Regions from separate parts of the Homo sapiens genome. Here region 2 is linked to region 1. The links come from fine-mapping of genetic effects on gene expression. Tissue or cell type: breast. Region 1 holds a variant in brackets; the other region holds the start of a gene. All regions are shown on one strand. Distances are from middle to middle.

Region 1 (9,628 bases):
TTTTCTCTTTTCTCTGCTGGTTCACTTCTCTTATGAACAAGTGTTGTTTGATATTCTTACTTTCCAGCCCATCTTTTGCTGTCTTAAAGTCTTGTATGTAGTGTGAATATATTGCCATGGGGAGATATCCAGTCCCACTGCCTATCTTTTCATGAGTGGTATTGATTCCTGTAGAGTCAGACCTTCTTCCCAATTCTTTATGTGCCTGATCCAGCGAATGGTACCTCTATTGACATGTAGTAAATGCTCGGTAAATAGTTTCTCCAGGATTCAATATAACTCCCAGAATGCACTACGACTCTGTCAGACTCAGCTCTTTTTAACTGCCACCCAGACCCTCTAGGTATAAGCACTCCTAGTCACACAACATTTTATGGGTAATTGTAGCCTCAAGCCAGTGCAAGAAAACAGTAACTAATATTAGGGAAAGTGTGGTCAAAATGGCTCTATTATTCTAGAAGTCAAATTGGGGCTAGCTTTCCTTTCTCTGCTGGGAAGACTCCATGTTTCTAAGGAAAGTACCTAGAGTGGGCATAGCTTTATTGACTAAAAAAAGATGGTAACCCTTATCTTTTTTCCTGCCTGTAACTTCCTCAGAACTTTGGCTAGTGGAAATTCTTCCTGTTTCCTGGCATATCACTGAGGAATTCTCGGAGTTTCCAGTTTTACAGAAACTAGTTTCTCTTTGTTTTTTCTTAGTTATATCACAGGAAGTTGGGGAGAGAAAAATCAGAATTTATTAGATTTTTAAATAAAAAGATAATACAATTAATTCATAATTATTTACATTTAACTGAGTTCTGTACTTACCAGTAGCCTCCTTTTCACATGTCTTTCTTATCTAAATTCTTTACTTTGGTTTGTGTTTCGGTTGGCTTGAGTATTTAACACTTTAAATAACGTAACTGAGGAGGGCTTGTGTTCAGGATATACTTTCTGAACCTTTACAGACCTAAAATTAGTTGCCAGCCAAGCTGGACTAAAAATCAGGTCCCCTACAAAATTAGCTACTTTGGCCTTTCCTACAAAATTAGCTACATTGTTTATCTCTCTAAAACATTAAAAAAAAAAGGTACCAATAAAAAATTATTTTACCAGGTAGTGGTTGTAGTAAGAATTAAATGAGATAATACTTCTAAAGCACTTAACACAACAGTCTTCCAAAGTTGGTACAATTACTAGCTCCATTTACAGATGAAGAAGCAGATGCTCGAGGTTGAGATAACTTGCTGGAAGCTGCACAGCTGGTTGGTGGCAGAGCCAGGCCTGGGACATGGGACCGTTTGAGTTCGGAACAGAGGCCCAACTCCAGCTAAATCACCACATTGCAAGCATCTCACCCAACCACCCATTCCTCTCTTTTCAGTTCTGCTTCCTTTGCGATGCTGGGCATATTGATTTGAGGAATACTCAGCTTTCAGGTCCCAGCTGCCAAATTAGATTATGTTGCAAACATTCAGCTGTCTCCCTATGCAACATCACATATTCAGCAGGCATTTCAACAAAAATTAATTGATGAAAATATATGGCAATCACCCAGAGCTGATAAAAACAACTTTTAACCCTGCTGCTAACTACTAACAGATTCTAAGGTTAGAACTTTGCCTGAGGCCTGCGATAGAGCACTCTTCCCCCAGGACCATTTTAATTTTTGCTGTTTATCAAAATAAATACATATTTTTTGATATTTTAGAAAATAGATGTCCTATTGCTGCCTTTTATAATAATCCCTCTTATTAAGCCAGACACTGGGAATACATAATATGCATTTTCTGCCTGGGAAAAAGGCAGAGAGCAAGGGAAAGTTAATAAGCTGTGGAAATCTCTCCATGTCCACTTGGTCAAATTAAAATTCTACTGATTACATAGTTGCCTAGAGTAATGCTTTTCCGATAAATGCTCGATCTTCGTCCATAGGAAGATCTCAGGAGACATTTACCCGAAGTGAATCAGATCCAAAGATAGTAAAAAGTGTTGGAGGACCCAGTTGGGTCATAGTTGGAGTCTTGTATTCTCTTTGCCCTTAACCATCTCTATGATCTTTGATGCATTCTTCACACAGCTAGGTTTCCATTTCTCAGTCTTAAAATAAGGTTTAGACCTAACCTATGAGGTAATAATGAGAATTTCCCAAACTCATGTGTGCATATGCAAGTTTCTTGAGAAACAGGCTCTAAACTAAAGCTCTTTTTGGTGGGGACTTGGACTCAGATTCTCTTACTTCCCTGTCTCTAGGTAGAAACACTGCAAATTGTTTTGCTGCTGTAAATTCTCTTTCAATAATCAGAAGATTTTCTTTCAGTCTATTTCCCACATCTTCCTGATAATGGCCAGTAGGCAGAACTGAAAGAACAGAATGAAATATTTGAATTGCTTAAAACCCACATCTCCCTGAATAAGATTAATACATGTATCAGGTTTTATTTCTTCTTCTTTTTTATAGAGGAACAGTTCCATCTAGTGTAAGGACAGGGCACTCCTCTTCCTGACTTCAACCCTTAGGTGGGGGATGTTCCCAGTGAGTATTTGTCACAGTCCTGGCCCCAGGCTATTTCAGGGCTGCCTGGCCACTTACCTGCCCCTTCTTTGACACATTGTTTGTGAACAGGTGGAGGAACAAGGTGGGTACAATCCCCCTTCTTAACTCTTAACAATGCAAGCTCTGATTTTCCTATGTCAAATCCTGTCTTCGTAGGTCGTTATGATGCTTGTTTGTCAGGACCTGAGTCCTCTCTTTTGGGAGAGTAGGAAAGAGAAGCTTGAGTACCTACCCAAAGTCACTGGGTAAGCCTTGCTTCCATAGGTGGGTGAGGAGGACTACAGTGGGCAGATGGTAGTAAGGAAAATGAAAGGAAAGGGAATTTGTTTAGACTTGGAGGAGAAGGGTCTAGCTTTCCTCCAAGTCTCAGTTACCAGTTTGCTCCACGGTGGTGCCTTTCCTTCTTCATCCTCCTCCTTATCAATCCCCCAACCCCTGCCCTGCCACTACCACAGACCTGAATACAAGCTGATGAGATAATCCCTTCTAGCCTCTGTTTCTGAAAACCATTGATCCAGGTCAGCAGCTGGAATGCATGGGAGACATGAGTCCTTTGGAGAAATGGATGGAGCACCCAGCCCCGACTCCCATCTCCATCATGGGAGGAGAAGAGCTGTCAGCTTCATAGTGCTGAGCATTCTTTCTCATTCTCTTAGTCATTTTAATGGAAATGCAGTGTATCCCTACATTTCACTATCTCTTTACTTCATTTAGAAGAAAACTAGACACTAATGAGCATACCCAAATCCAATGTAGAAAGACAGATTGAAACAGGGGTTGGTAAACTTTGTATGAAAGACCAGTATATTCATTTCCTAGGGCTGCTATAACAAATTACCACAAACTGGGTGGCTTGAAACAAAAGAAAATTATTTTCTCACTGTTATGTAGACCAGAAGTCCAAAATCGAGGTGTTGGAAGGGCTGTGCTGCCTCCAGACACTCTTGGGTAGAATTCTTTCTTTTTTTTTTTTTTTTTTTGAGACGGAGTCTCGCTCTGTTACCCAGGCTGGAGGGCAGTGGCATGATCTCCACTCACTGCAAGCTCTGCCTCCCAGGTTCACACCATTCTCCTGCCTCAGCCTCCTGAGTAGCTGGGACCACAGGGGCCTGCCACCATGCCCGGCTAATTTTTTTTTTTTTTTTTTTGTATTTTTGGTAAGGATGGTCTCGGTCTCCTGACCTTGTGATCCGCCCGCCCTGGCCTCCCAAAGTGCTGGGATTACAGGCATGAGCCACCGCGCCCGGCCTCTTGGGTAAATTCTTACCTGCCATTTCCAGCTTCTGGTGGTTCCAGAGGTTCCTTGGCTTGTGGCTGCATAATTCCAGTCTCCACTTGTTGTGACATGGCCTTGTCCTCTGTATGTCTCTTCTCCTCTTCTATCGCTTACAAGAATACTTGTTATCATATCGAGGACCCACCACAATAATTTGTATGCACAATATGATATTTGTCACACTATTCAACTCTGTGTTATAGCACAAAAGCAGCCATAGACAATATGTAAACAAATAGTGTGACTGTGTTCCAGGATATCTTAACTTATGGACACTGAAATTTGAATTTCATAGAATTTTTACTTGTGAAATAGTCTTCTTTTTATTTTTTTCAATCATTTAAAAATGTAAAAATTGTTCTTCACTCAGAAGCCATATAAAAAAATAGGCAGCAGGCCAGCTTTGGCCTATGGGCCATAATTTACCAATCCTGAGTTAGAATAATAGAATATATCCTAAACCATCTTGATTCCTTTTTGATGGTCTCCAATAACCTTCTAATAACTCCAGCTATCTGTTCTGTCTACATTATTCTAAGTGTTTCTATGTCTCTTGACATACATTTGACCACTCTCCTTTTTAAAACTCTCTCTCTTGTTATGTGGATATGATAAAATGTAAATGTAGCTTCACAAGAAATATAATAATGGAGGGTAATTGGTGATTTTCCAAGGCAGGAGGGTGGTTGTCCTGACCTTGTTTGTCTGTATCTGAGCTATGTGACCCTTAGAACAGGAGATGGTGGCCTCTCTGGATGGAATAGAGATTTTACAGGTGAGCTGGACCAGAAGAGCTGGTGATACTCAGGTGGGGGTTGAATGGGGCAGTTGTGAGGCACTTGTGGACATTAGAGAGGTAGAGATAGAGAGAGGAGAGAAAGGGGGAAGAAGGGCATGTAAGCAAAGGGAGGGGGAGACAGGAAAAAGAGGAGAGGAGAAGAGAGGCAGAAAGATGAGCCAAGGTTGCTCACGGCAAGAGAGGAAATTAAATCCAGATGATGCTAAGTGAGCTTGAGGCTCATTAAGCCATACCAGGCAAGA[A/G]GACAGTTAGAATTGTCCTTGAGCTGAAGAGGAGAACTACGTTAGGAGCTGCAATCCCAAGAATGGAGAGAGGGTCCTGGAAGGCTTGAGGATGGGGCAAAGATGCTGGGGCTTGGGAACAGTCCCTCAACGTTTTGGGGTTTTTAGATTTTTTTGTTTGTTTTTTAAATGGAGGTCAAAGTGTAACAGCCTTCCAAAATAAACTAAGTTGTCCTTATGCAGCCCTTTCATTTGGTTTGAAAAGGTGAGGTCAGAGATGTTCATGCTCAGTGTGAATTTGGAGACGCAAAGGAGAGAGGCAGAGCACAGACTCATCTGGAGGAGAAAGGCAGCTTCCTGCCTCACTGCCCAGGACTGAGGTAGGGAGCAGGCCAAATGCGAACTTGGAAGCCAGTGGCAGAGGATGGGCCGAAAGGAGGGATAAGGGAGTACCAGGAGCTAAGCAGTGCTGTGGAGAAGGTCTTTTAGGGGACTCTTCCAACAGCAGCAGGGATGCAGGGTAGATAGACAGGGAGAGACCTGGGGCCAGAAAACCCAGAGAAGACAAGACAGTTAGGAGACTCCAGCCACAGTCCAGGCAACATGCACGAGGGCCTAACTTACAGTGGGGATGAAAGGGAATGATAGCTGGGAAACCCTCTTCAGAGGGAATCACCATGGCTCATTGGCTGACAGGTTGTAATTTCTCACTCACCTGTGCTGGGTTAGTGCTGAATCTCCACTGGGTTTCTTCAGAGAGTGTGTGTGTGTGTGTGTGTGTGTGTGTGTGTGTGTGTGGTGGGTTAGTGCTGAATCTCCACTGGGTTTCTTCAGAGTGTGTGTGTGTGTGTGTGTGTGTGTGTGTGTGTGTGTGTGCGTGCGCGCTCTTGGCTGATTATCTCCCTGGGCCAAACTTCCAATTATAAATCTCCCGGAGTGAGTGGCTTCAGCAAAGCAGTCCTTCCTTGTGACATGCTCAGTCTGGAGGTTCTGACTACTCCCCCATGAGCTCTGTAGGGGAGCTGTTTGTTGTTTGGGATTTTCAGAAACAGGATTTTCCTGCTTGGGCAGCAACAGCATGACCCTGAGTGTTCAGATCCCGAGGGAGCCAGGAGCCGGGAGGAAGGCAGCAGCAGGCTCAGCTTCCTGTAGGCCAAGCATTGCTTTGGGCAGTGAGGGGGGCATCCAAGTGAACTTTAGTTGTGCACAGCAAGCCCCACACCCCCGCCCTTCAATTAATCAGTGAGCCAGCAAGCTGGGCCTTTACTGAACTCCTATAGTGAGGCCAGTTTCCTTATCAAAAGTGAATGGCCTCATGGAGAGACCTCAGTCCCACACCCTGAATAAAGCTCAATAGTGCTGCCCACCATCAGTGATTCCAGGAAAAAAAATTTAATGAATCTGATTAGAATACTTAGAGTACACTGATGACCTGGAATTAGCTTGAATAGGAAGAGAGGATACGTGAGGAATTAAATCCTTGCACACAGGAGTTAAAACCACCTCCTCCCTTTTGCATCCCTGGTTGGTCCACCTGGATCCTCTGTCTTCACAACTTAAAAGGGTTAGCAGCCACATGGAAGGAAACAGGGAATGTGCCAGGTGAATTTCAGAAGTTTTGCCATTGCTTCTCTCCAAGTTGTACACAATTTCAATAATACTCTAAGAATTAAGAGATGTATTTTAATGGGTTTTTTTCCTGATCCTATAAACAAATCTTAGGTCATCAGATCTGGAAGAGACATCAGACCTTATGCTCTGCTTCCCTTGTAAAACTGAACGCCTTTAACAGCACAGCTCAGAGTGCAGTCAGTCAATATTGACATTTCACAAGAGAGGTCAATAATTCTCAGCAAGTGAGTAGCTGGTTCTAGCTCAGTCACCCACTTAGGTGTCAGGACTATCTTCTGAGAAGCAGTCTTTCATAACATCCCACTGAGGCTTGGATGCCTTCAGAAAAGATTTCTGACAATTCCTGTGCTTTCTTGCCATAGCATCTTGTTAGACTCAGTCAAGGTGATTGTGTATTGTTCCTACCCTGCCCTCTGCTGAGCTTTTGCCTAAAAGAACTCTTATAAGAAGTCTTAGGCTGGTGCAGTGGCTCACGCCTGTAATCCCAGCAATTTGGGAGGCCAAGGTGGGCAGATCACAAAGTCAGGAGTTCAAGACTAGCCTGGCCAATATAGTGAAACCCCATCTCTACTAAAAAATACAAAAATTAGCCAGGCGTGGTGGTGCACGCCTGTAGTCCCACTACTCGGGAAACTGAAACAGGAGAATCACTGGAACCCAGGAGGCAGAGGTTGCAGTGAGCCGAGATTGCGCTACTGCACTCCAGCCTGGTGACAGAATGAGACTCCGTCTCACAAAATACCAAACAAACAAACAAAAAAGAAGTCTTGGCCCCATCTTTCTTTGGAATTAATAGCCTTTGATCCACCCACTAGAAATGGTAGAGTGAGGTGTACAGTCTATTCTCCTAAGGAACAACCCCTTAGCAGTGAATTTCTCTAATGGGAATGCATTGGGGTGACTAAGAGAGCTGTGATCTATACACCTGTTTAGTGATATTTATCAATCATTTATTAAGCATTAATTGAGCATCTACTATGTACCAACTGTTAAGCTTCCTGTTTTCAGATTTAGAAGGAATCAGACATCTGACACTTTAACTCTCAGCCTCGGAGCATGTATTAGTCCATTTTCACACTTCTGATAAAGACATAACTGAGACTGGGAAGAAAAAGAAGTTTAATTGGACTTACAGCTCCACATGGCTAGGAGACCTCAGGATCATGGGGGGAGGTGAAAGACACTTCTTACTTGGCAGCGGCAAAAGAAAATGAGGAAGAAGCAAAAGCAGAAACCCCTGATAAAACCATCAGATCTCATGAGACTTATTCACTATCATGAGAACAGCATGGGAAACACTGGCCCCCATGATTCAATTACCTCCCCCTGGGTTCCTCCCACAACACGTGGGAATTATGGGAGATACAAATCAAATTGAGGTTTGGGTAGGGAAACAGCCAAACCATATCATTCAGCCCCTGGGCCCTACAGATCTCATGTTCTCACATTTCAAAACCAATCATGCATTTCCAACAGTCCCCCAAAGTCTTAACTCATTTCATCATTAACCCATTAACCCACAGTCCGAAGTCTCATCTGAGGCAAGACAAGTCCCTTCCACCTATGATCCTGTAAAATCAAAAGCAAGCTAGTTACTGCCTAGACACAATGGGGGTACAGATATTGGGTAAATACAGCCATTCCAAACGGGAGAAATTGGCCAAAACAATACAGGGCTCATGCAAGTCTGAAATCCAATGGGCAGTCAAATTTTAAAGTTCCAGAATGATCTCCTTTGACTCCAGGTCTCACATCGAGGTCACAGTGATGCAAGAGGTAGGTTCCCATGGTCTTGGGCAGCTCCATGCCTGTGGCTTTGCAGGGTACAGCCTCCCTCCCAGCTACTTTCACAGGCTGGTGTTGAGTGTCTACAGCCTTTTCCAGGTACATGGTGCAAGCTGTTGGTGCATCTGCTATTCTGGGGTCTGGAGGATGGTGGCCCTCTTCTCACAGCTCCACTAGGCAGTGTCCCAGTAGGAACTCTGTGTGGGGGCTCCAACCCCACATTTCCCTTCCACACTGCCCTAGCAGAGTTTCTCCATGAGGGCCCCACCCCTGCAGCAAACTTTTGACTGGGCATCCAGGTACTTCCATACGTCTTCCTAAATCTAGGCAAAGGTTCCCAAATCTCAATTCTTGACTTCTGTGCACCTGCAGGCTCAACACCATGTGGAAGCTGCCAAGGCTTGGGGCTTGCATCCTCTGAAGTCACAGCCCAAGCTGTACATTGGCCCCTTTCAGCCACAGCTGGAGTGGCTGGGACACAGGGCACCAAGTCCCTAGGCTACACACAGCACAGGGACCCTGGGCCAGATCCACAAAAACACTTTTTCCTTCTGGGCCTCTGGGCCTGTGATCGGAGGGGCTGCCATGAAGGTCTCTGACATGACCTGGAGACATTTTCCCCATGGTCTTGGGGATTAACATTAGGCTCCCTGCTACTTATGCAAACTTCTGCAGCCAGCTTGAATTTCTCCCCAGAAAATGAGTTTTTCTTTTCTATCGCATAGTCAGACTACAAATTTTCCAAACTTTTATGCTCTGCTTCCCTTATAAAACTGAATGCCTTTAACAGCATCCAAGTCACCTCTTGATTACTTTGCTGCTTAGAAATTTCTTCTGCCAGATACCCTAAATCAGCTCTTTCAAGTTCAAAGTTCCACAAATCTCTAGGGCAGGGGCAAAATGCCACCAATCTCTTTGCTAAAACATAACAAGAGTCACCTTTGCTCCAGTTCCCAACAAGTTCCTCATCTCCATCTGAGACCACCTTAGCCTGGATTTTATTGTCCATATTGCTATCAACATTTTGGGCAAAACCATTCAACAAGTCTCTAGGAAGTTCCAAACTTTCCCACATTTTTCTGTCTTCTTCTGAGCCCTCCCAAACTATTCCAATCTCTACCTGTTACCCAGTTCCAAAGTCGCTTCCACATTTTCAGGTATCTTTTCAGCAATGCCCCACTCTACTGGTACCAGTTTATTGTATTTGTTTGTTTTCACACTGCTTATAAAAAACATACCCAAGACTGGGAAGAAAAAGAAGTTTAATTGGACTTACAGTTCTACATGGCTGGGGAGGCCTCACAATCATGGCAGGAGATTCACTGGTACCACTTCATATATGGTGGCAGCAAAAGAAAATGAGGAAGAAGCAAAAG
Region 2 (9,628 bases), 43 kb before region 1:
GGAGGCCATTATTCTAAGCAAACTGAAGCAGGAACAGAAAACAAAATACTGCATATTCTCACTTATAAGTGAGAGCTAAACGCTGAGTACGTATGGACACATAGAAAGGACAACAGACACTGGGCCCTACTTGTGGCTGGAGGGTGGGAGGAGGGTGAGGATCAAAAAACTACCTATCAGATACTAAGTTTATTACCTGGGTGACAAAATAATCTGTCCACCAAACCCCTGTGACACAAAATTTATCTATATAACAAACCTGCACGTTACTCCTGAACCCAAAATAAAAGTTTTTTAAAAACCATGCTGGTGTCTGTGTATGTGCAAATATATGGGCAAATTGCAAATAATTCATGTTTTCGCTTTAAAAAGTAATACATGAAGTTGGTATAGACTCTTAGTTATTTGTATAAAATATAGGAAATAATTCAAAGAAACAAAACTTTATTTAAAACTTTTAAAAATAAACAAATATGAATAGAAACTCACAACATATATATGCATATGCATAGGAATATAAATATAATCTACTTCCCAGCAATTCCACTTTGAATCTACCCCCATAGAAAGAAAACACCAGGATGTAGAGAATGTTTATTGTTAATTGCCTTTAGTGACAAAAACTGGAAACAAAGTTAATTTTCATGAATAGAGAATTGAATGTATAAATTACGGTGTATCCATAACATAGAAATAATATTTAACCACTGAAAAATGAGTTAAATCTATACCTGTTGACTCTGAAACAGCTGGGCAAAGTTTAGAGTGGGAAAAACAAAATACAGACAACAATGAAAGTCCTATATTTGCATTTACATGTGTGAATATTATGTATGTTTGTATTTCCATCTAGATAGTATCAAAGAGTCTGGACAAATAAGGAAGGATTTATACTACATTGTTAACAGCGTTTACTTTAAGATGTGTGATCCTGTGTTGAGTGTCAAGGAAGATGTTCAGTGAAAAGAGGAACGAAGGGGGAAAAAGGATAAGAAAACAAGAATATCAGCTCTTGGAGGGAAATAGCATGTATAGAATTTTATCTATATATTTGTGCAAAGCTGTAGGGGGAAAATTCATTACTTTATAGATGGGTGATGCTAGATAAAGTGTCTCCTCATATCATAGGTATGAACCAAAAACAACTTCTGCTACTGTATAGCTGAGGCTTTTTTTTTTCCTCAATGGTGAACCCATCATGAATATGCTTTTTCTTTTTAAGAAGAGAAACTAGCTTTAGCAAGTCATAAGGATTCCTAAGATATGGCTACCAGCCATGAAAATCCCGGAGTAGAAAGAAAAACAACCCCAAGTCAGACTCATCAACACATCAGAGTTGAAGGCCAGGGTAAGGAACGTAGGTGTCCCAGTGCCTGGCACCAGTTCCACCATTTGAGGTGGCTTTGGACTGGCATACAAAGCCTCAAAGTTAGCCGAGGGCTAGGCAGGATGGAGGCAGGGAGAGAAGGCGGGCTGACCTGCGCTCCAGTCCCTATGCAAACCTGGAAGGTGAGCAGGGAGAAGAACCCCTGATGCCACCCAGGGCCCCGCTCTGACCTGCAGGCTCATAGGTGGGCAGTCATTATGGGACTTTAAGCAGAGTGACAAGGTTTGATTTATAAAACTTCAGCCTGAAATATTCGCCTTTTTTCCACCCTCAACCTCTTCCCATCCTAACTCATTCTTCAGGCTTCTTCATGGATGAGATTTTCTTCCATCTGTACGGATACCCCTCATTGTTTAGGTTAGGTGGCCTCCCTCTTCTCTCCTCACTCAGGGCTTAGTACCTTTGGTCATCATAATACCGCCCATTTTGTATGGTTCATTGCTTCTTGTTTGTCTTCCTCCATACTGTAAGTGCTTGTTCACCCCCCAGCCCCAGTGCCCAGCACAGTACCTGCTTCAAAATATCAACTTGCTGTACTAATGGAGGATAAATGGATTAATGTTTACTTTTTAGCTATTTCATATTTATTTTATATTTAGCTCTTATTACATATTTAGATTTTATTCGATTAGCTTTCTTTTTCTCCCTTAACCACTGAATAAAGTTCCTTTTGAAAACGTCAGCCTGGCTCTAATGGACAGGGAGAAAAAAGAAAAGATAACTTTAAACAGCTTGGAAGGAAAATTAAAGATAGAGAAGTTTCCCCTCCCCCCTCCCCCACCCTCCGCATCCCCTTCCCTCTCCCTTTTCCTCCCTCTCTCTGTCAGCTCTTTGAGATGGTGGAAGCCTCAAGCAGAGATCCAAGGTGGAGGAGGCATTCCCTTCCACAAAGAAGACCTCTTGTGCAGCCGCTCTAAATAAAGGGACGCTGTTCTCTTGAAAGCATCTCTAGAGTTTTCTATGCAGTGTGTTTACGGGTGCCTAGGAGAACCTGGCAAAGCAATGTGCGGTTCCTATATACGCTAAAATCCCAGGCTCCGAAAAAATACAGAGTGAAACAGCAGATTCTCCTCCCCGGCGTGGGATCCAATTTTTGCCCGGCATAAGTGTATAGTAAATTTCCCAGCCTTAAAGCACTTCCCGAGAGATGCTTTGAGCGCTCGCGGTACCAGTGCGTAAACGCCGCTCCCCGGCTGGCGCGGGTGTGCGCCAACTCCAACCTGCGCGCAAGTCTGCCGGTGCGCGCTCCAGTCCCACAGCTCCGAGTCCCCGCAGTGAAAGGAGGGGGCGGTGCACCGGGGTAGATGGGCCCCTGAGGACTCCCGGGGTTCAGTTTTCCGCGGAACTCTGCCTGCAGCAGTCTGGCGGGAACGTGCTGCGGAGCTCATCCCATCTTGGCTTCTCCAAAAGGGTTTATACGGACTGGCGAGTCTTTGCCCTGCCTCCTCCAAGTGTCTGGCACCAGTTCTACCGTTTGAAATGGTCTTGGACTGGGATACGAGGCCTCAAAGTCAGAAGACGGCAGGGCAGGATGGAGGCGGGCAGAGAAGGCTGGCTGACCTGTCCTCCAGCCCCTATGCAAACCTGGAAGGGGAACAGGGAGAAGGACCACCGATGCCACCCCGAGCCCGGCTCTGGCCTGCAGGCTTGGCAGGCGCGGAGGCGGAGGCTGCCAGGTCCCCGGGAGGCAAACGCAGCGCCGCAGTGATTGCTGGCGGAGAGCCCAGAGCCGCGCGTCTGAGCGACAAGCTGCCTATGAGTGTGGCTCCTGCGCTCACCAAGATTCGCAGGGAGCTCAGCCCTGTCCCCAGTGATTGAGCAGAGGCTCATCCAGAGGGGTCAGGTGGAGGGCTCAAATGGAGCTTCTCCTGGAACGAGGGGCCAAGTCACCAGGGTGGCTGAGGAAAGTGTCCTCAAAGCTTAGAGACTGTCACTTCCCAGGTGAATCAGCTAGCCAGGTAACTGAGCTAGATATTTTGTGGGGGTGTTTCCTAAACACAGCCTCAGGAAAGTTGTTTTCGGGACACCTGGACCAGGGAGTCGTCGCCTCTGGCTTCTCGGTAGCTGGAGCGCGGCCCGGAGCGCGGCGCTGGCACATCGCCCCCACACATGACCGTTTCCCATTGCCACAGGCAAGCCGCCTCTGCAGAGCTGTCTCAGGGCTCTGGGCTTCATTCCCTGGAAGTTGATTGTCCTCCACTCCAGCTGTTTCCCAAATCCTTCCTTCCTCCCAGCACCCCTCGTGCAACGACGATTCCAGCTGCGGACCGCATCTGTGTCAGTTACTTCCAAGCCACCTACTGCCCCCTCGCGGAGTGCGTGGGGCTCCCGGCTCGCAGACTCCCACGGCAAGTAGCAAGCAGCAAAAGGCGTGGTAGCTGCGGCGGTGGAATGAGACAGTTGTCAACAGCTGGCGCAGCTGCCGCGCTGCGCACCGGGACTGGCGAGTACGCAGCCCAGGTACTGCCCCTTCCCAGTGACGTCTCTGCAGGGGGTTATAAAAGCCTCGTGCGCAGCTAACTCGCGAGCTGAGCAACCCGAACCGAGAGGTGCCCGCGAAACTGCAGGCGGCGGCAGCGGCAGCAAAAGAGAAGGAAAAATCTCCAGCTGGATACGAAGCTCCAGAATCCTGGCCATAGGCTCAGAACTTTTACAGGTCGCGCTGCAATGGGCCCCCACTTCGCTCCTAAGTCCTCACGCAGCACAGGGCTTTGCCTTTCCCTGCGGAGGAAGGAGAAATAGGAGTTGCAGGCAGCAGCAGGTGCATAAATGCGGGGGATCTCTTGCTTCCTAGAACTGTGACCGGTGGAATTTCTTTCCCTTTTTCAGTTTACCGCAAGAGAGATGCTGTCTCCAGACTTCTGAACTCAAACGTCTCCTGAAGCTTGAAAGTGGAGGAATTCAGAGCCACCGCGGGCAGGCGGGCAGTGCATCCAGAAGCGTTTATATTCTGAGCGCCAGTTCAGCTTTCAAAAAGAGTGCTGCCCAGAAAAAGCCTTCCACCCTCCTGTCTGGCTTTAGAAGGACCCTGAGCCCCAGGCGCCAGCCACAGGACTCTGCTGCAGAGGGGGGTTGTGTACAGATAGTAGGGCTTTACCGCCTAGCTTCGAAATGGATAACGTCCTCCCGGTGGACTCAGACCTCTCCCCAAACATCTCCACTAACACCTCGGAACCCAATCAGTTCGTGCAACCAGCCTGGCAAATTGTCCTTTGGGCAGCTGCCTACACGGTCATTGTGGTGACCTCTGTGGTGGGCAACGTGGTAGTGATGTGGATCATCTTAGCCCACAAAAGAATGAGGACAGTGACGAACTATTTTCTGGTGAACCTGGCCTTCGCGGAGGCCTCCATGGCTGCATTCAATACAGTGGTGAACTTCACCTATGCTGTCCACAACGAATGGTACTACGGCCTGTTCTACTGCAAGTTCCACAACTTCTTTCCCATCGCCGCTGTCTTCGCCAGTATCTACTCCATGACGGCTGTGGCCTTTGATAGGTGAGATTAGCCTTTGTGAAAAGGCGAGAAAGTGCTCATAGAGGACCACGGCATTGCTGTGAGGTTTGGAACTGGGTGGGGTATGGGTCAAGTGGAAGATTGGCCACTCTGAGGGTTTTTTTACTGATCAACTGAGTCATTTGTTGATGGGGAACTTCATCTTATGTATTTCAACTTTTTTTCCTCTTTTTTACCCATCACTCTCTCTCTTCCTTTCAACACACATCCCCCTTTTCTTCATTTAACTCCCCTTTCTTCATCTCTTCTCCACTCATCTTCCTGACACTTTCAACTTCTGCTTTGCTCCTTTCCATATATTCCTTCTCCCCTTTACCCTTGCAGGCTGCAAACAATACCTAGGGTTTGGTCAAAGGACTAGACCCTGGAAGGGGCTTTGTAAATTCCTCCAGGCCTGTTTTTCTGTCAGACAGCCTCTTGTTGCCTTCCTGTTTTAAGTACACCTAGAGGATTCTGGGACTTTCTGCTCCCACTGCAACTCTCCAGTTTGTTGTTGTAGTTGTTGTTGTTGTTTGGTTGGTTGGTTCGTTGGTTTGTGTTTGTTTGTTTGTTTGTTTTGGATGTGAAAGAGCATTTCATCAGTATCATAAGATACTCAGAATTCTAATGCAGTTTACTCTGTAATGCTAGGAATTCTCATTCAGGAATGAGAGACAGTTATGCTATCCTTAAGAAACTCCACGGATAGGGATCCAGGAAGCTTACCCAAGAGGTGTTCTAAATTTCTCCTGCAATGTAAAATGTATGTATTTAGCCTGTCTCTATCCACAGAGAAACATGCTTGGCAAAGGCATTTGAGAGCTCTTCTGTTCCGGCAACCAACAGGTTAGGGTTCCCAAAGCTGACTGAAAGTGAAAAGGTTGGCATTTCAAACACTGGGGATGGTATTCTGGAATGAATGGCTCTTCAGGTAGCATGATGGAAAATTGATTATTGGAGCACAGCTCTGTTGGTATTGTCTCCTTTGTGAGTATCTTAGGTCTCCAATGTGTATGTCTATGTGTGCACAGGTGTTAAATGTTTACCTGGGATGTGAAAGTATGCTTAAAACACCTACCACTGTGATTTTAAAATGGAGTCTTTTGATGTCCTTCCTGAGATAACTGAATGTGAGAAACCCAAAGAAGGAGCTAGGAGAAAACTTCAAAAAAAATTCCAAACTACTAACCCTCTTTGCATAAAGATTGTTTATAACTTGCAAATTATTAGAAGTCTTTTTTAGCTCCTGTAGTCAATGAACACTTTTAAAATCAGGGAAATCTTCATTTCCATCCTTTGCAGTGGTGTCCAAATACTGATTTGTTAGTTCCCTGTACATCTCTCTATATGCAGCTCCTATGTGCTTACTATGTTTTATGTAAAACAAATTGTGGAAAATCAGTTTGTATTTTAAATGTAGATGGTAAACCAATTACTCAAAGTGGGAGTGAAATGAATTATTTTGCAAATTTATCTTTTGTACTACACTGGTTTTCAGATATTCAGTTTGCTGAAAGTGAGGTACACCTGTAAATCTTTCTGCATTGACATGCTCCTTTAATCTCATAACAGCTTCCTTAAACTTAAAAAAGTCGATAGCATGATATATAAGTGAATATCAGGGTAGTGAAACCTGATGCCAGTTCAGCCTTACAAACACTCTCTTGATGCCCCCTAAATTAGAGGGCAAGTTTTTTGGGGGGTTTTGTTTGTTTGTTTGCTTTTTCTGCACTGGGGCTTTGCACAAGCTCTAGGAAGACCTGTCAGTCAGTGTGAGCTGGAGCATTCAGTAGCTGATGGAGCACCAGCAGACAGCTCTCTCTTTTGGCTTACACAGAAACATGTTCTGCAGCCCTGATCTTTCCTCTGGAACTTAGAAGGTTAGGGGTGGGGATGAGAGTCAGAGTCCGCACAGTGGATTGGGCAGGGAGCCAGATTTCAGCTCCGTTGTTGTTTTTCTCTAGGTAAACCACCGCAGAGCCCCGACCCTCTGTGATACCTGCTCAGTGAGACCAAAAGGTCTCGGATGCCAGAGCTTTAGGAAATGACAGCGACAGGGAATGTCACCATGTTTCCAACATGCAGATACAGCCCAGGGAGGTTACCAATGGCATTCCTAAGATTAGAGTTCAAGGTAGAATTAGGGATGAGACTTCAGGTCTCTGTCTCCATGTCTGCCAAGTGCTCCTTCTATTTTTTCTTGCTCAGCCTGGTGAGCACACTATAAACTCACCCCCTCAGGCCTTCCAATGAATATATTTCCTGCATGTGTGGTCATCCATTCTCTCCCAAGAATGTATTGGAAAGAAAGGGGGCTTTAAGTCCTCTCCCTGTAAGTTATCTCCCTTTTCTCCAGCATGGAAATGCAGACTTAGAGGAAATATTAAATCAGCTGTTTGTATATTCCTTGAATTTTTAACAGACAACCTTTGAATCAAGTCTTTAAAAATAACAGCAATGTGGCTTTCCTGATTGTAAAATTAAACCTGTTCACTGCAGAAGACTTGGGAAATATGAAGAGCACAAAAATCCAATCCCCCTTACCTAACCGACAAGAAGCAACACCTGCTAACCTTTGAATTTCTCTTTTATGACTATTATACTACATAATTGAGGTTAGATTCTATATAATTTTGTAGCCTATATTTTTCCATTGGTATTAATGAAAGACTTTAATAACACCTTCCTGTGTTATTCAAAAGTTTTCAGAAACATAATCTTAATGGCTTCATACTATTCTATTATGTGAATATGCTATTATTATTTACGTAGTCATTTCTCTACTGTTGTGTATTTAGGTGATTTCTAGATTTTTGCTATTATAATTAATAATCTAAGGAATATTTATATATGATAATTTTGTTTTGCCTTCTTGATTATTTTCTTAAGATAGATCCCAATAAGTAGAATTACTACATCAAATAAAATGAATTTTTAAAAAGCTATATCTTCTCATTTTAAAGGATTTTTAAAGGAATTGTTGAGTCAAACTATCTTGGTAAACTTTGTCAAATTTCCTATTAGAATCAAGATATATGCGGAGAAAAACTTCAGTTGCAGATTGCAGTACTAATTTAAATGTTTCCTGTAGTCTTTCTACAGGAAAGGTGGGGTGGGGTCAGGGAAGGAAAAAAAGGGATGGGGGGAAAGGAAGGGAAGGTAGGAGAAGGAGGGAAGAGGGAAGAAAAGTGGGAGGTGGGAAGGGGATAGGAGAGGAGGGGAGGGAAGAAATATCTCCATTAGAAAGAGTTTTATTTTTTGAAGGCAGCAGTTACCTAGAATTTAAAAATGTTTCAGAGACAAATGTAGCTAAATAAGATCAGGTTTACCTCTATCTAAACTCCAACAAATACCAGGGATTTTAGCTATTGAAACTCTATAATTTCTCTGACTTAGAATTTAAAAATTCTTTACAACTATAAAACTAAAAGGTATGTATGATGTTTCATGAAATTTGAAGATGGGGGACACAGAGAGGTGATGACTCCCCCCTCAACAGCCCCGTTCCCCTAACCCCCATTTTCAGGAGTTGGTGACAATTACTGGTTCTATTATGATGCTCTGGCAAGTACTGTGGAGCAGAACCTAAGAAGGGAGTAGAGGAAGGGAGGCAATCTCCAAGCCCTGCAGGGAGCTGGGGAATGGGCAACAGATAACCTGATTTGAAACCATGCACATAGCAACAGGAGCAACAGCGAGGTCCAGACAAGCACTGGCCTGGTATCACTGTTTCTCTACCTGGTAGGGGCAAGCATAATTTCAGCAAAATGAAAGGTAGCAGTTGCTCACTCAGACTCCAAATAAAATGGTCTCTCTGAGACCAAAAAATATAGTTGCCCAGAGAGAGTAATGGTTGAAGGCAAAAGAGGAATTGAGCTCTCTGAGAGAGCTGATAATGTAAAAGAGGAACCTAGAACAAAAACATGAATAAATCACAAAAACTTTGTCCACTGAACTCGTGTCTACACACTCTGTCCCAGCCATACTCAGCTACCAATTTAAATATCCTGCTTTCCAGGTCTCTATTAGACCTGCACTCTATCCTTGAACTTTACCTTGTTGGTTGAACTGCAATCTCATTGTTTATCTCAGAGCAGTCTTCCCTCACCCCACCTGGAGGGGGAATTAAATTCCAGGATCCTTTGCACTAATTCGGATGGCCCTGGAAACCCATTACCATGCACTGCTGTGATGCTGTGAATGGCCATTCACTAGAAGCTCATTGGCCACAACTGGCCCTGTCTTTTCCAATGTCAGCATTGATGTGGATCAAAATGGAGTTTGTTAATTCTCAGATGGGTCATTTAGATTTCAGGGCCTTTCTTCAAGAGGTCCAATGCCCACCTCCTCTCTGGAGCTGCTCCGTTACACTTGCCACACTCTCTCCCTACTCCTGGGAGCCTGCAGTGTCCTGAATGGTCAAGGGTGTTACTTTTTTAAAAAACTGGAAGAAATCATAGTTTGAATTGGAGGCAAATAAAGAATAATTCTCAAAATAAAAGCACATAGCACAAGCACAAGACACTGTTACTATTATTGTTGCTGAATTAGAGTGAGGATCATGAGACAGAAACACCATCAAACTTAGATAAAGATATTCAGTCTATCAAGTGTTGATGCCATCAAGGTAAGGTGAGGTTTCCTAACTCACAGCCTTGTTTATTCCCTCAAAGGGCTATATATGAAGGCAAATAAGACTGATTTAGAGGTAACTAAAATATAAGGTATTAAGTAAAATGTTTCA

Alleles and levels. Alleles are on the strand shown, and positions count from the first base shown. SD is a standard deviation of normalised expression in the study named.
With allele A in place of G in region 1, the expression in breast of the gene that starts at base 3,913 in region 2 is lower (small effect, 0.22 SD a copy in GTEx).

The links.
Region 2: TACR1 starts here. The variant in region 1 is fine-mapped to the expression of TACR1 in breast (GTEx, PIP above 0.99). The same link has a PIP of 0.9 or more in esophagus mucosa and tibial nerve.

The regions. Positions count from the first base shown.
Region 1 is chr2:75,150,494-75,160,121 of GRCh38, reverse strand. All of the region lies in intron 1 of TACR1 (tachykinin receptor 1), which reads left to right. It overlaps TACR1-AS1 (TACR1 antisense RNA 1), which reads right to left and starts at 5,804. Exons shown (of 4, transcript NR_168010.1): 1 at 5,551-5,804; 2 at 3,807-3,918. The variant A/G (reference allele first, on the strand shown) is at 4,857.
Region 2 is chr2:75,193,805-75,203,432 of GRCh38, reverse strand. TACR1 (tachykinin receptor 1) reads left to right here and starts at 3,913. Exons shown (of 5, transcript NM_001058.4): 1 at 3,913-4,887. The coding sequence starts at 4,499. All of the region lies in intron 2 of TACR1-AS1 (TACR1 antisense RNA 1), which reads right to left.